Homo sapiens: one gene and its partners. The protein of the gene in region 1 purifies or fractionates together with the protein of each later gene. This does not show direct contact. Each region holds a gene or a part of one and is shown in the gene's direction. Other genes may lie near its edges.

Evidence for each region.
Region 2: the proteins of IFI6 (region 1) and CDK12 purify together in Homo sapiens (affinity purification with mass spectrometry; one large-scale study listed by BioGRID and IntAct). This does not show direct contact.
Region 3: the proteins of IFI6 (region 1) and ARGLU1 purify together in Homo sapiens (affinity purification with mass spectrometry; one large-scale study listed by BioGRID and IntAct). This does not show direct contact.
Region 4: the proteins of IFI6 (region 1) and KNOP1 purify together in Homo sapiens (affinity purification with mass spectrometry; one large-scale study listed by BioGRID and IntAct). This does not show direct contact.

What each region holds. Positions count from the first base shown.
Region 1 is NC_000001.11:27,669,393-27,673,412, reverse strand, and holds the start of IFI6 (interferon alpha-inducible protein 6 isoform a precursor), read left to right. Parts: upstream 1-1,220; 5' UTR 1,221-1,290; intron 1,291-4,020.
Region 2 is NC_000017.11:39,520,486-39,523,985, forward strand, and holds part of CDK12 (cyclin-dependent kinase 12), read left to right. Parts: intron 1-3,500. UniProt on the Homo sapiens protein: Cyclin-dependent kinase that phosphorylates the C-terminal domain (CTD) of the large subunit of RNA polymerase II (POLR2A), thereby acting as a key regulator of transcription elongation.
Region 3 is NC_000013.11:106,541,173-106,544,137, reverse strand, and holds the end of ARGLU1 (arginine and glutamate-rich protein 1), read left to right. Parts: coding exon 1-142; 3' UTR 143-2,465; downstream 2,466-2,965. UniProt on the Homo sapiens protein: Dual function regulator of gene expression; regulator of transcription and modulator of alternative splicing. General coactivator of nuclear receptor-induced gene expression, including genes activated by the glucocorticoid receptor NR3C1.
Region 4 is NC_000016.10:19,701,437-19,704,832, reverse strand, and holds the end of KNOP1 (lysine-rich nucleolar protein 1), read left to right. Parts: 3' UTR 1-2,896; downstream 2,897-3,396.

The sequences.
Region 1 (4,020 bases):
TAATAAGAGGCAAATGGCTTGGCTGGTTGGTCAAAGGCATGGATGGAACAAGATTGGAAGATTGGGAATAAGCAGGTGTGGGTTAGGGGCATAAGAATGAACTCTGAATGGGCATAAAGCACCTGGATCTCTATGTCTCATGTTAATGCTGACCAGAGATCATCTGCTGCAGAGGAGGCTCTACAGCCCAATGGCCAGGATGTCCCATCCTGTGGATGTCAGCCAGCCTCTAAACTTAGCCTCACTATTGCCTTGCAATAGACCTATGAGTGTCCAAGGTGGTAAGGATGGGGGTTAGAAATGAGTCCAACAACTTGGGCTCCCTCTCACCAAAACTGATCTGGCAATTGCCAAAATATAGCCAATCTGCCAGCAGCAGGTAGCAATATGGCAAAATTTCTCAATGAGAATAGCCAGCCATCTGGTGGCAGGTCAATTATTTCAGACCCCTTCCACTTGGGAGAAGGCAATGATTCATCCTTACTGGAATTTCTATGTTCTCCAAATAGAGGTTGCATTTCTGACCCATAGCACTTCAAGCATCACCATCCAAAGGCTTTAAAGAATGCTCAGTTCATTACCTAGGGCCAGGGGACCCATCTTGAAACTCAAGATCTATCATGATGGCCACATGAACACAGGCTTCACTGGTCTTACCATATGCCCATGACCCAGAAGCAGCCAGCCTGAGAGAACAATGGAACAAAGTGACTTAATTTCCAAAGTTCTGGGGGTTTATAAACAGCATATGGTATGTCACATGACTACTGTGGGATTGGAAAAAGATCATGTAAATAGAGCACTTTGCACAGACCCTGGCATGCAGCAAGTGCTCAATAAATGATAGGTGTTGTTTACTAATTGGACTGAATGGTGAAAGGCCTGTGTGCCCCAGGGGGAGCTGGTGATCAGGCTTCACTAAGCCCAGTATGGCCGTGGCTCTCATCATAGTGTGACATGCTTTGAATACCCTTAGCGGCTCCAAAAGTCCTCAGCTTGAAGTGCATTTTTCTGCCAGCAGGCAGCACACAAATGTTCCCGCTGGGCGGAGCTGGGAGAGAGGGGAAAATGAAACTCTGCAGAGTGCAGGAGCTGGGAGAGAGGGGAAAATGAAACTGCAGAGTGCAGAAATAGAAACTCCGACAGGGATTGGCTGCCTAGGGTGAGACGTGGGAGGATCCACAAGTGATGATAAAAAGCCAGCCTTCAGCCGGAGAACCGTTTACTCGCTGCTGTGCCCATCTATCAGCAGGCTCCGGGCTGAAGATTGCTTCTCTTCTCTCCTCCAAGGTAAACTCAGGAGCTATGAAGTGTGGGCATCAAGCTGCCACCCTCTGCCAGGCTGCCTGTCTGCCTGTAAATCTCATGTTCTGAGAGCCAGGAGGCCCCTTCTCCTGGGAGGCAGCACTCCTGGGTCCCTTTTAGTGCTCTGGGCTGGGACTTGTCTAAGAGGATGGGTTGGAGATTTTTAGGGAGATGGGATGCAAAACCCCAAGTGGCATGAGACCCAGCTTACAGGTGCAATATCAGCGATCTGTGGCCTTAACACTGTCACCTCTTGGAGCCTTAATTACTTCCTCTGTAAAAGGAAAGTTAAGTTGCCTTTGCTGCTCAAAGGACTGGATGATTTTAGAATCCCCTTTATTATAGGATCCAATGTGACAGTGAGTTCATCTTTAAGGATAGATGAAGCCATCTGGAGTGGTTGTTAAAAATGTGGGCTTGGTGGCCGGGCGTGGTGGTTCACGCCTGTAATCCCAGCACTTTGGGAGGCCGAGACCCACGGATCACGAGGTCAGGAGATCGAGACCATCCTGGCTAACACAGTGAAACCCTGTCTCTACTAAAAATACAAAAAAAATTAGCCGGGCTTGGTGGTGGGCGCCTGTAGTCTCAGCTACTCGGGAGGCTGAGGCAGGCAGGAGAATGGCATGAACCTGGGAGGTGGAGCTTGCAGTGAGATGAGATTGCGCCACTGCACTCCAGCCTGGGCGACAGAGAAAGACTCCATCTCAAAAAAAAAAAAAAAAAAATGTGGGCTTGGGTATTAGCCAATTGTGGGTTTAAACCCTGACTTTGCCATGACCTGGCTAGGCAGCCTTGGGAATATTACTTAACCTCTCTGAGCTTCAGTTTCCTTATCTATAACATGTGGTTGATAACAATGGTACCTACTTCGTGGTGTTGTTATAGGTACAAGTGGACTGCGTGCCATAAAGTGCTAAGTACTCAATACATGAGAGGAGTTTCTTGTTTTTCTTTTTAACTTAAGAAAATAGCATTGATCTGACAAAGATCATATTAGAGGTGAGTCTGAGGGCATATGCATTTTCCAGTTTTGTGGTATAAAGGAAAGAGCATAGGTTCATGAATTCTGACTGTCTTGAATGTGTACCCATGTTGCACAATTTGCTGTGTGACCTTTATCCCTTGTGATATTGTAAAATATATTTTTTCATCCCCCAGTTCCTGGCATACAACTCCTAAAATCCTTGGAATCTTCAAAGTGATAAATATCTTTTGAGTGATAACTGTCTAATAAGTTGACTGATGGCTGGCATTTCCTCTGGGGAGGGGAGAGGGGCTGAAGGTTAAGCTGATTACCAATGGGCAGTGATTTAATCAGTCATGCCTATGTAATGAAGCCTCCATAAAAACACAAAAGGACAGGGTTTGACAAGCTTCCAGATAGCCGAATACAAGGAGGTCTCCAGTGGGTGGTGCTTCTGGAGAGGAATGGAAACTCCATGCCCTTTCTCCCATACCTTGCCCTATGCATCTCTTCATCCGGAGCATTTGTAATATCCATAAGGAACCAGTAAATGTAGCTGGGTATGGTGGCTGATGCCTGTAATCTCAGCACTTTGGGAGGCTGAGGCAGGCAGATTGCGTGAGTTCAGGAGTTCAAGATCAGCCTGGGCAACATGGTGAAACCCCATCTCAAAAAAAAAAAAAAAAATTAGTTGGGCGTGGTGGTGCATACCTGTAGTCCCAGCTATGCTGGAGGCTGAGGTGGGAGGATCACTTGAGCCTGGGAGGCGAAGGTCTCAGTGAGCTGAGATGGGGCCACTGCACTCCAGCCTGAGCAATAGAGTGAGACCCTGTCTCAAAACAACAACAAGATCAATTTTTTTTTTTTAAAGAAAGAAACCAGTATATGTAAGTAAAGTGTTTCCCTGAGTTCTGTGAGCTGCTCTAGCAAATTAGTAAAACTGCAGGAGGGAATTGTGGGAACCCCAGTTTATAGTCAGTCAGAAACACAGGTAAAACAACCTAGGGCTTTCGATTGGCAGTCTGGGGGACTGAACCCTCAACATGTGGGATCGGCCACTATCTACCCATAGTGGTGTCAGAATTGAATTTGGGGACCCTCAGCTGGTGTTCACCAGAGGACTGATTGTTTGCTTGCTGGTGGGGAGAAACCCCCACACTTCTGCTGTCAGAAGCCTCTCGTACGGTGAGGGAAACTGAGTTTCTTTTTCCACACACCCTTCTGTGCTTTCTTTCTGAAAAAAAAATTAAGTTGATGTGAGGCCAACGTTTGGTGCCAGTAGATATTCAATGCATTGTAAGAATGAGTTTGTCTTAAAAATTTTTTTAAAGCAAATTCTATGCGTCAGGCACTGTTCAAAGTGCCGGGGATACAGCGTGGAACAGTTATTAAATTAACAAGTACCCTCTGAAATAGACTCTATTAATACCCCAATTTTAGAAATAAACAAACTGAAGCCCAGAGAAGCAAAGTACCCTAGTATCCTGCCCAAGGTCACTTGGGTACAAGGCCAGGAACAACCACAGTCATGATATTGACATCTGCGGAGCTTACCACGTGCCAAACACCGTGCGAATCCGCACAGAATCCGCACACCCACCGGTTGGGGCAGGGACATCTCTGCCACTGATGCGGAGAGGAAACGGATTCCCGAGGCTCCTGAGAGGGATCCTGGGTTCCATTCACCACACCTCGCTGCTTTTTACTGATTCAGTTGGAACTGGAAGGGAAAACAACGGAGCTGATGA
Region 2 (3,500 bases), on another chromosome or scaffold:
GTTCAAGCGATTCTCCTGCCTCAGCCTCCCGAGTAGCTGGGACTACAGACACACACCACCACACCCAGCTAATTTTTGTATTTTTAGTAGAGACGGGGTTACACCTTGCTGGCCCAGCTGGTCTCGAACTCCTGACCTCAGGTGACCCACCCTGGCCTCCGAAAGTGCTGGGATTACAGGCGTAAGCCACTGCGTCCAGCGTGTTTTTGTTGTTGTTGTTGTTGTTGTTGTTTTGAGATGGAATCTTGCTCTGCCTCCTCCACCTCCCGGGTTCTAGCGATTCTCCTGCCTTAGCCTTGCAAGTAGCTAGGATTACAGGTGCCTGCCACCACACCCGGCTAATTTTTTTGTATTTTTGTTTCATTTTGTTTTGTTTTTTGAGATGGAGTTTCGCTCTTGTTCCCCAGGCTGGAGTACAATGGCGCAATCTCAGCTCGCCGCAACCTCTGCTTCCCAGGTTCAAGCGATTCACCTGCCTCAGCCTTCCCAAGCTGAAATTACAGGCACGTGCCACCATGCCCAGCTAATTTTGTGTTTTTAGTAGAGACAGAGTTTCTCCATGTTGGTCAGGTTGGTCTCGAACTCCCGACCTCAGGTGATCTGCCCACCTCGGCCTCCCAAAGTGCTGGGATTACAGGCATGAGCCACAGTGCCTGGCCATTTTTTTGTATTTTTAGTAGAGATGGGGTTTCACCATGTTGGCCAGGCTGGTCTTGAACTCCTGCCCATCTTGGCCTCTCAAAGTGCTGGGATCACAGGTGTGAGCCACCGTGCCTGGCCTGTTTGTTTGTTTGTGTGTTTTGAGACGGAGTTTCACTCTTCGCATCCAGGCTGGAGTGCAGTGGTGTGATATTGGCTCACTGCAATCTCCGCCTCCCAGTTTCAAGCAATTCTCCTGCCTCAGCCTCCCAAGTAGCTGGAATTACGCCACCATGCCCGGCTAATTTTTGTATTTTTAGTAGAGACAGGGTTTCATCACGTTGGCCGGGCTGATCTTGAACTCCTGGCCTCAGGTGATCCGCCCGCCTTGGCCTCCCAAGGTGCCGGGATTACAGATGTGAGCTACTGCTCCCAGCCTTTTTTGTTTTTTCCGAGACGGAGTCTCGCTCTGTCGCCCAGGCTGGAGTGCAGTGGCGTGATCTCGGCTCACTGCAACCTCCATCTCCTGGATTCAAGCAGTTCTCCTGTCCCAGCCTACTGAGTAGCTGGGATTATAGGCGCAGGCCACCACGCCCGACTAATTTTTTTGTATTTTTAGTAGAGACAGGGTTTCACCATGTTGGCCAAGGTGGTCTCAAACTCCTGACTTCAGGTGATCTGCCTGCCTCAGCCTCCCAAAGTGTTGGGATTACAGGCATGAGCCACCACTCCCAGCCTTTTTTTTTTTTTTTCCAATTGTAGAAATGGAGTCTCACAATGTTGTCCAGACTGTCTCAAACTCCTGGGCTCAAGTGATTCTCCCGCCTCAGCCTTCCAAAGTCATGGGATTACAGGCAGGAGACACATGCTTGGCCTCCCTCTGGTTTTTGCTCTTAACCATTCCTCCAGCTGTAATCATGCATGTCTCTGGTGACCATGTATATCTCACACTTGCAGAGATAGTCCCAGTTTTTTGGGGTTTTTTTTGTTATTATTTTTTTTGAGACAGAGTTTCACTCTTGTTGCCCAGGCTGGAGTGCAGTGGTGTGATCTCGACTCACCACAAGCGTTTCCTGCCTCAGCCTCCCGAGTAGCTGGGATTACAGGTATGCGCCCCCATGCCTGGCTAATTTTGTATTTTTAGTAGAAACAGAGTTTCACCATATTGGTGAGACTGGTCTTGAAGTCCCGACCTCAGGTAATCTGCCTGCCTCGGCCTCCGAAAGTGCTGGGATTACAGGCGTGAGCCACTGAACCCGGCCAACAGTCCCAGTTTTAAATGGTTTGCATCACTGCCAGTTTTTTTTGTTGTTTTTGTTTTTTTCTGAGACAGGGTCTCTCACTCTGTCACCCAGGCTGGAGTGCAGTGGCACAATCTCAACTCACTGCAACCTCCACCTCCCGGCTTCAAGCGATTCCCGTGCCTCAGCCTCCTGAGTAGCTGGATTACAGGAGCCCGGCACCACAGCTGGCTAATTTTTGTATTTTTAGTAGAGATGAGGTTTCACCATGTTGACCAGACTTGTCTCCAATTCCTGACCTCAGGTGATTCGCCTGCCTCGTCCTCCCAAAGTGCTGTGATTATAGGCGTGAGCTACCGCACCCAGCCAGATTACTGAATTTTGATGTAAGAAATAAGATCTTTCGGTCGAGCGCGGTCGCTCACACCTGTAATCCCAGCACTTTGGGAGGCCGAGGTGGATGGATCACCTGAGGTCAGGAGTTCAAGAGAGCCTGGCCAACATGGTAAAACCCCGTCTCTCCTAAAAATACAAAAAATTAACCAGGTGTGGTGGTGTATGCTTGTAGTCCTGGCTACTCAGGAGGCTGAGGGAGGAGAATCGCCTGAACTCGGGAGGTGGAGGTTGCAGTGAGCCGAGATTGTGCCAGTGCATTCCTGCCTAGACCATAGAGTGATACTCCATCTCAAAAAATTAAAGTAACATAAAAGAAATATGATCTTTTAATATGTCTCTATTTAATTAAAATCTTATGAATGCCTCTGTATTGTATTGGAGCTTCAGAGATTCATATCCCACATTATAGCACATAAAAAGTCTTTTATCTGGCCTGGCACGGTGGCTCATGCCTGTAATCCCAGCACTTTGGGAGGCTGAGGCAGGCAGATCACCTGAGGTCATGAGTTCGAGACCAGTTTGGCCAACATAGTGAAACCCCGTCTCTACTAAAAAATACAAAAATTAGCCAGGCGTAGTGGCGTGTACCTGTAGTCCCAGCTACTCAGGGAGACTAAGGCAGGAGAATCACTTGAACCTGGGAGGCGGAGGTTGCAGTGAACTGAGATTGCACCACTGCACTCTAGCCTGGGCAACAGAGCAAGACTCTGTCTCAAAAGAAAAAGAAAAAAAAAGTATTTTATCTTTGAATTTGTCAGTGACAGTATTATAGCTTTAATGTCAAATTTTGGAGGTCATTTTCTTAAGAAAGACTACATGTCTTAAAAATGGATAGGATGTTAGTTCATGAGTAGGTAGTAATTCTAAATCTGATTGCTCCAAAGAAATGTCCAAATTCATTTATTTTTTTGAGACAGACTCTTGTTCTGTTGCTCAGGCTGGAGTGCAGTGGTGTGATCTCGGCTCACTGCAGCCTCCACCTCCCAGGTTCAAGCAATCCTCCTGCTTCAGCCTCCTTAGTAGCTGGGATTACAGGCACACACCACCACACTTGGCTAATTTTTGTATTTTTAGCAGAGACCAGGTTTCACCATGTTGCCAGGCTAGTCTCGAACTCCTGACCTCATGATCCGCCTGCCTCTACCTCCCAAAGTGCTGGGATTACAGGCATGAGCTGCCGCGCCCAGCCAAATTCATTTATTACACTAGAATGTTGATACATTG
Region 3 (2,965 bases), on another chromosome or scaffold:
TGAAGAACAAAGAAAGATTCATGAGGAAAGGATGAAACTAGAACAAGAACGACAACGTCAACAAAAAGAAGAACAAAAAATTATCCTGGGCAAGGGGAAGTCCAGGCCAAAACTGTCCTTCTCATTAAAAACCCAGGATTAAATTGCAAACTCTGAACTTTTTACAAAGAAAAATGGAAAAACTTTGTATGGTAGCTTCATGTTGAAGTGGTTTTTTGTTTTTGTTTTTGTTTTTTTAATTTGTAAAATCTGGAAAGTTAGCTTGTTCTAATAGGGGCTATGCTCTGCAATTCCCTTTTTTTTTTTTTTTTTCCTTCCACTAAGTCAAATCCTTATCAGATCATTGTTGTATTCTAAGGAGTGACGTATTTTTCACCTGTTTGGATTCTATATTAGTGGTCTGAGGAAGAGCAGATCACATTGTAAAACTATGGATGGTCTGATAAGGCTTTTACTGACCCCACTGACTTCAGAGTTATACTCTGTTTGCTACATCATAATGCTGGTTTTGCTGACTTTTTGTTTTTTTATATATTTATAAAAAAAGAAAAAGTTGGTGATTGCATTGGGAAATTCCCAGGGTATTACTGGACCTATGTGGTGTATTGTTAAACCAGTGTCCTTGTGATACTGTTGCTCTTGATGTTCCTGATACAGGTAAGGAAACAGTTGGTCAACTCTGATACAAAGTATATATACAGTTCAGTATTGTCTCTGTTCATTTTGTTTTTATTTCATTGACAAAATCAAACCAGCATTCCCCATTGTGTAAATAAATGATTTTGCTGAATAAAGTAAAGTCTTAAATTCATATGTTGAAGCAATTTTTTTTAATGTTATGTTAAGTCTTAAAGAGGGTGGTTCACTTTTTGATGGTCAACCATTTAGAAGTCTTAGAACTATATTTCCTCTTGTTTATACTTTTAACATAGGGTTTATATGTACATTAAATATACTTGTGAATTAGTATTTAATGGCTATTTTTACAAATATCAACTTTATGCTGATAGAGCAAATGGCATCAGTGTTACCTTTAAGAAAGACTAACAACATCCAGAAGATTTAAATTCTCAAACCTGTGCCTCTGTTTTAGGATATAAGTATTATCACAAAGTATACTTAATAAAGGCTAGAAAAATGCTTTTAAATTATGGAATCTGAGATCGTTTTCAGAGTGGGCCATCAGAAAGAACTTAGCTTTATACTGTCAAAAAAAGGCTAAGATGGTCGAGTCATTTTCATTGTGTAGTGTACTTGCACGTTTATTTTTAGGACAAACACATTTGAACTTTATGAATTTTTTTTTTTTTTTTGCATGTGAAATCTTATGAATGGCTTTCATTTTATACACTAGAATCTGCCTCATTTACTCTTAACATATGTTTAAGTATACTGGTATTAAAACATTCAAGAAAAGGATATTGATCTAAAATGCTACCTGAGATGCATAAACATGTCATCAAGTAGAGAAAATATTTTTATTTTTGCCCAATATTTTTTAGACAGTTTGATTATTCTTAAAAATTGAAAACATAAGCTAAAGAGATGACTAAATGGTAGATTATTTTGTGTGTGCATGCTAGGAAAAATGCTGTTGCTTTAGTTTTGAGCTCTTCAATGAGTCTAATTGTGGTAAGGAACAATATAAAATCAGTTTAAAGATCTTTAAAGGTAGAATTTTAAATAGGCATGAAATATAGTGAGAACTTTTAGTAAACATACTACTTACTCTAAAATCAAACATTTTATTTTCCTAAAGAATATAGGTTGCCAAAAAATATTTTATCTCTAAATATAGGTTAGCTGTAATTATTTCATGAATTTTTTTTTTTTTCAATGTAACTTTTTTTGGTGAAGATTCATGGTTCCTAAGTTCTGTATTCAAGTTTTTGGAAATGTTTATTTAAAAACTGTTCTATACAAGTGTTCAAAACATTGTATCTAAAGAGAGTAGCCTGGACTTAAAATATTTGAAATCAGCTTATGCGTGCCTTTTAATTTTTTTTTTAAGTTTCTTACTGCCACATATGGTGTGAAGTGACAGTAAGTTGCTTAATGACATCCTGCAGTATCTGCTTGCTTTTGGAGACTCCAGTGAGATGTTGAAATTGTTCCTGTGCTTGGTAACTACTTTCCTCTGCCAGGCTATGGGAAAGAGGATGTAATTGTGAATAATATACACCATCCAGTCTTTAATGTGCTGCAACAATGTAGTAATTTGTTTTTTTCATTTGTTCCCACTGCCTTTGTGTACATAGAAAACTTAAAAATTTCCCCCAGTCTATTAGAAGTTAAGATGTTCCCTAATTTATTAAATATGCCTTTATTCACAATTTGTTTTTTTAGGTTATTCTTAATGCATTATAGAATTAAGTATGACTTTGTTTATTTTTATTACAGTATGTAGTTATTGACATATTGTGGTTTGCAGAATTATCAATTGTATAAACTAAACCTTTAAATTAGCTTGGTGTGAGGACTCTTTAATGCTTTAAATTGGGGAAGGGGTTTGTAGTATGAGATTTTACCTACTTCAGTTTCCCTTATGAAGATGCAGCAAATCAGACTATTTCTACCCTAAGTAATCTCCGTATTCATTTACTGTGCTAGTATGTGTCCATAGCTTTTTTTTTTTTTTTTTTGTATCACCACCTGTCCTGGATTTAGCAGTATCTTAAGAATTTTCAGTGGTTTGTATTTTTTCAATTTTCTAAGTATAGTAAGCGTAGAATCCTGACTTGTTGAACTCTATGTATCATTTCTAATGCCTCATTTTATGAGGAGCCTGTCACTTCACTGACATTTCTCCAAAGCTATTTCTATCCATTAGAGCGTCTCTTTTCAGTTGTCTAAATTTTCTGCATCTTTACACGCAAAACCATTCATCTGTTTTGTATTAATGGCCATGAGAAATACTGAAGACAGGCTATCCTAATTTTTGAGGCTCTCCTCCCCCTCCAGGAGA
Region 4 (3,396 bases), on another chromosome or scaffold:
AAGGACCTACTTGGGCCACTTCCCTCAGGACGTGAACTTGTCCTGCCTTTCTTTCCTGGATTCAACCTTGAGATACATAATGGGAGAGGCCGTGGAAAGCCCAAGAGGCAGTGTTCTGGATTTGAGTGAGTGCCTTCTGGGCACCTCCTCCTTTGATGGAGAAACAAATCCCTCCTGACCTTGAGCAACACTACAGGAATGTGCCTGGTGTAAACAGGAACCAGCCGTTCGTTTCTTTTTTTTTGAGATGGAGTCTCACGGTCGCGCAGGCTGGAGTGTGGTGGCGTGATCTCGGCTCATTGTAACCTCTGCTTCCTGGGTTCAAGCGATTCTTGTGCCTCAGTCTCCTGAGTAGCTGGAATCGGCCGTTTACTACTCATAGTTTTTATCTTGCCAAGAGGTCACCCTGACGTTGGCCTGCCTTAGCTCTGTTAAAAAGGTTGTGCTCTGCCAGGTGCGGTGACTCACGCCTGTAATCCCAGCACTTTGGGAGGCCAAGGTGGGCGGATCACGAGGTCAAGAGTTCGAGACCAGCCTGACCAACATGGTGAAACCCCGTCTCTACTAAAAATACAAAAATTAGCTGGGTGGGTGTGGTGTCACGGGCTTGTAATCCCGGCTACTCAGGAGGCTGACAGGAGAATCGCTTGAACCCGGGAGGTGGAGGTTGTAGTGAGCTGGGATGGTGCCACTGCACACTCTAGCCCCGGGCAACAGAATGAGACTCTGTCTCAAAAACAAACAAAAAAAAACTGTCTTTGGGTGATTGTGGAGAGGTGATCATATGTCCGCTGTGTTGCTCCCATCCAAGCCCTGGTGACTGGTAGCTCTCATGAGGGTGTGATGGTCAGGCCTTGCCCCTGGTGTAAATTCTGTCTGTAATAGGCTGTGACTTTCTAACTCAACATCACCACTGGCTTAGGAGTTCCATTTGCACAGGGGGAGCTTTATTGCTTTTCTATATACATAAGAACTTTACGTCTCACCAGTGGAGGTTGGGCAGCCAAGACACCACAATGCTGGGTGTCTTCAGAATGGACTTAATCTTGTCCTTTTGCTTTCTGCCAGTGCAGATCACCATCTCTCAGATGAGCAGGACCCCACCCTCTGGCAGTCTTGTCTTGGGAGAATCACTCTGAGCTCCCATCCTTTGTAAATTAACATTGGTTTGAGCACCACCCTCCATCACGGCTGCAGTGAGCCATGATTGCACCACTGTGTTCCAGCCTGGGTGACAGAGCAAGACCCCATTCCAAAAAAAAAAAAAAATTTGCCAAATAGACACAGTCCTCACAAAAGAAGTTGGCAGAATAACACCCCTTCCTACCACATCTCCTCAGAACCTGTGTATTTGTTAGGTTACGAAACAAAAGGGAATTAAGTTTGCTAATCAGCTGACCTTAAAACAGGAAGAGGATCCCGTGTTTCTGGGTGGGCCGGAGGAATCACAAAGATCCCTAAATGTGGAAGAGGAAGGCAAAAAAGAGTCCACATCAAAGAGACTTAAGAAAGACTTGACTAGACACTGCTGGTTTTGAAGATGGGAAGGGAAGGGTCAGAAGCCAAGGAATGTGTGTGCTGTCTAGAAGCTGGAAAAGGCAAGGAAGTAGATTCTCCCCTAGAGCCTCCCAGAAGGAGCGTAGCCCTGCTGATGCCTTAATTTTAGCTCAGTGAGACCAGGCGGACTTAAGACCTATAGAACCGTCAGATGACAACATTATGTTTTAAGCCGCTACAATTGTGGCAATTTGTTAAAGTAACAATAGAAGACCTAATGTAAGTAAGTCTCATGTGGAAGTTGCCATGGTTTTGTTTTTCTTTCTTTTTTTTTTTTTGAGACAGTCTCACTCTCACTCCACGCCCAGGCTGGAGTGCAGAGGCGTGATCTCAGCTCACTGCAACCTCCACCTCCAGGGTTCAAGCGATTCTCCTGCCTCAGCCTCCTGAGAAGCTGGGATTACAGGTGAGCACCACCACACCCAGCTAATTTTTTTTTGTATTTTTAGTAGAGATGGAGTTTCACCATGTTGGCCAGGATGGTCTTGATCTCTTGGCCTCATGATCCACCTACCTCAGCCTCCCAAAGTGTTGGTATTACAGGCATGAGCCACCGCACCCAGGCCCCATCATTTTTATTTTCTACAATTCTGGCTGACATCTTATTGCTCCATCCTTGCTAATGATAGACTTCATCTCACATAGACCAGTGTTTTCAGAGACCGGCTTATTGATTCAGTAAAGGGCTGGGGGAAACTGCACACACAAGGACATATAAAATCTAAGCCTCTGCCTGGGCCACATGACAGGATTCAGAAGCACCTTTGATATAATGGGTGCCCGACCTCATGTGAAAGTCCAAGTTCAGGTGTAATGTGAGAGCGGTAAGAATTCACTGGCCTAGGCTTGGGAACTAATGCTGCCCACCACGTTCAGCCTCAGAGGAGAAGAAATGACTTGAAGAACATAATTTGTGAATTTGCCAATTGTTTTTCATTTTATAGCATCACACAGTAAAAGTAGATAAAATAATTTTAATGAAAATACTTCTGTGGGCCAGGTGCGGTGGCTTACGCCTGTAATCCCAGCACTTTGGGAGGCCGAGGCGGCGGATCACCTGAGGTCAGGAGTTCTAGACCAGCCTGACCAACATGGAGAAACCCCATCTCTACTAAAAATACAAAATTAGCTGGGTGTGGTGGCGCACTCCTGTTATCCCAGCTACTCAGGAGGCTGAGGCAGGAGAATTGCTTAGACTCGGGAGGCGGAGGTTGGGGTGAGCCGAGATCACGCCATTGTACTCCAGCCTGGGCAACAAGAGTGAAACTGTCTCAAAAAAAAGAAAAAAAAACAGAATTTTGTGAAATAAAGGCCACTTGGGAGTATCTGAGCCACCCCACAATGCTGTCTGAGTTTCTGTATGATTTAGTAGAGGGGAGGGAAAGAAGCATTCATTAGTGTCTGCTGTCCTTTAATTTTTTTTGAGATGAGATGATATTTTGCTCTTGTCACTCAGGCTGGAGTGCAGTGACGCAATCTCGGCTCACTGCAACCTCCGCCTCCTGGGTTCAAGCGATTCTCCTGCCTCAGCCTCCCAAGTAGCTGGGATTACAGGTGTGTGCCACCACGCCTGGCTAATTTTTGTATTGTTAGTAGAGACGGGGTTTCACCATGTTGGCCAGGCTGGTCTCGAATTCCTGACCTCAGGTGATCTGCCTGCCTCAGCCTCCCAAAGTGCTGGGATTACAGGCGTGAATCACCGTGCCCGGCCAATAAATTGATTTAAAAAAATTTTTTAGCCCCTTTTACTGTCTGAGGTTAACTGAGTGTTCAACTGTAGTCTTGTATTTCTCAGAGTAAAGATGAAATGTAATCTATGTCCAGTTCCAGTGTGGATCT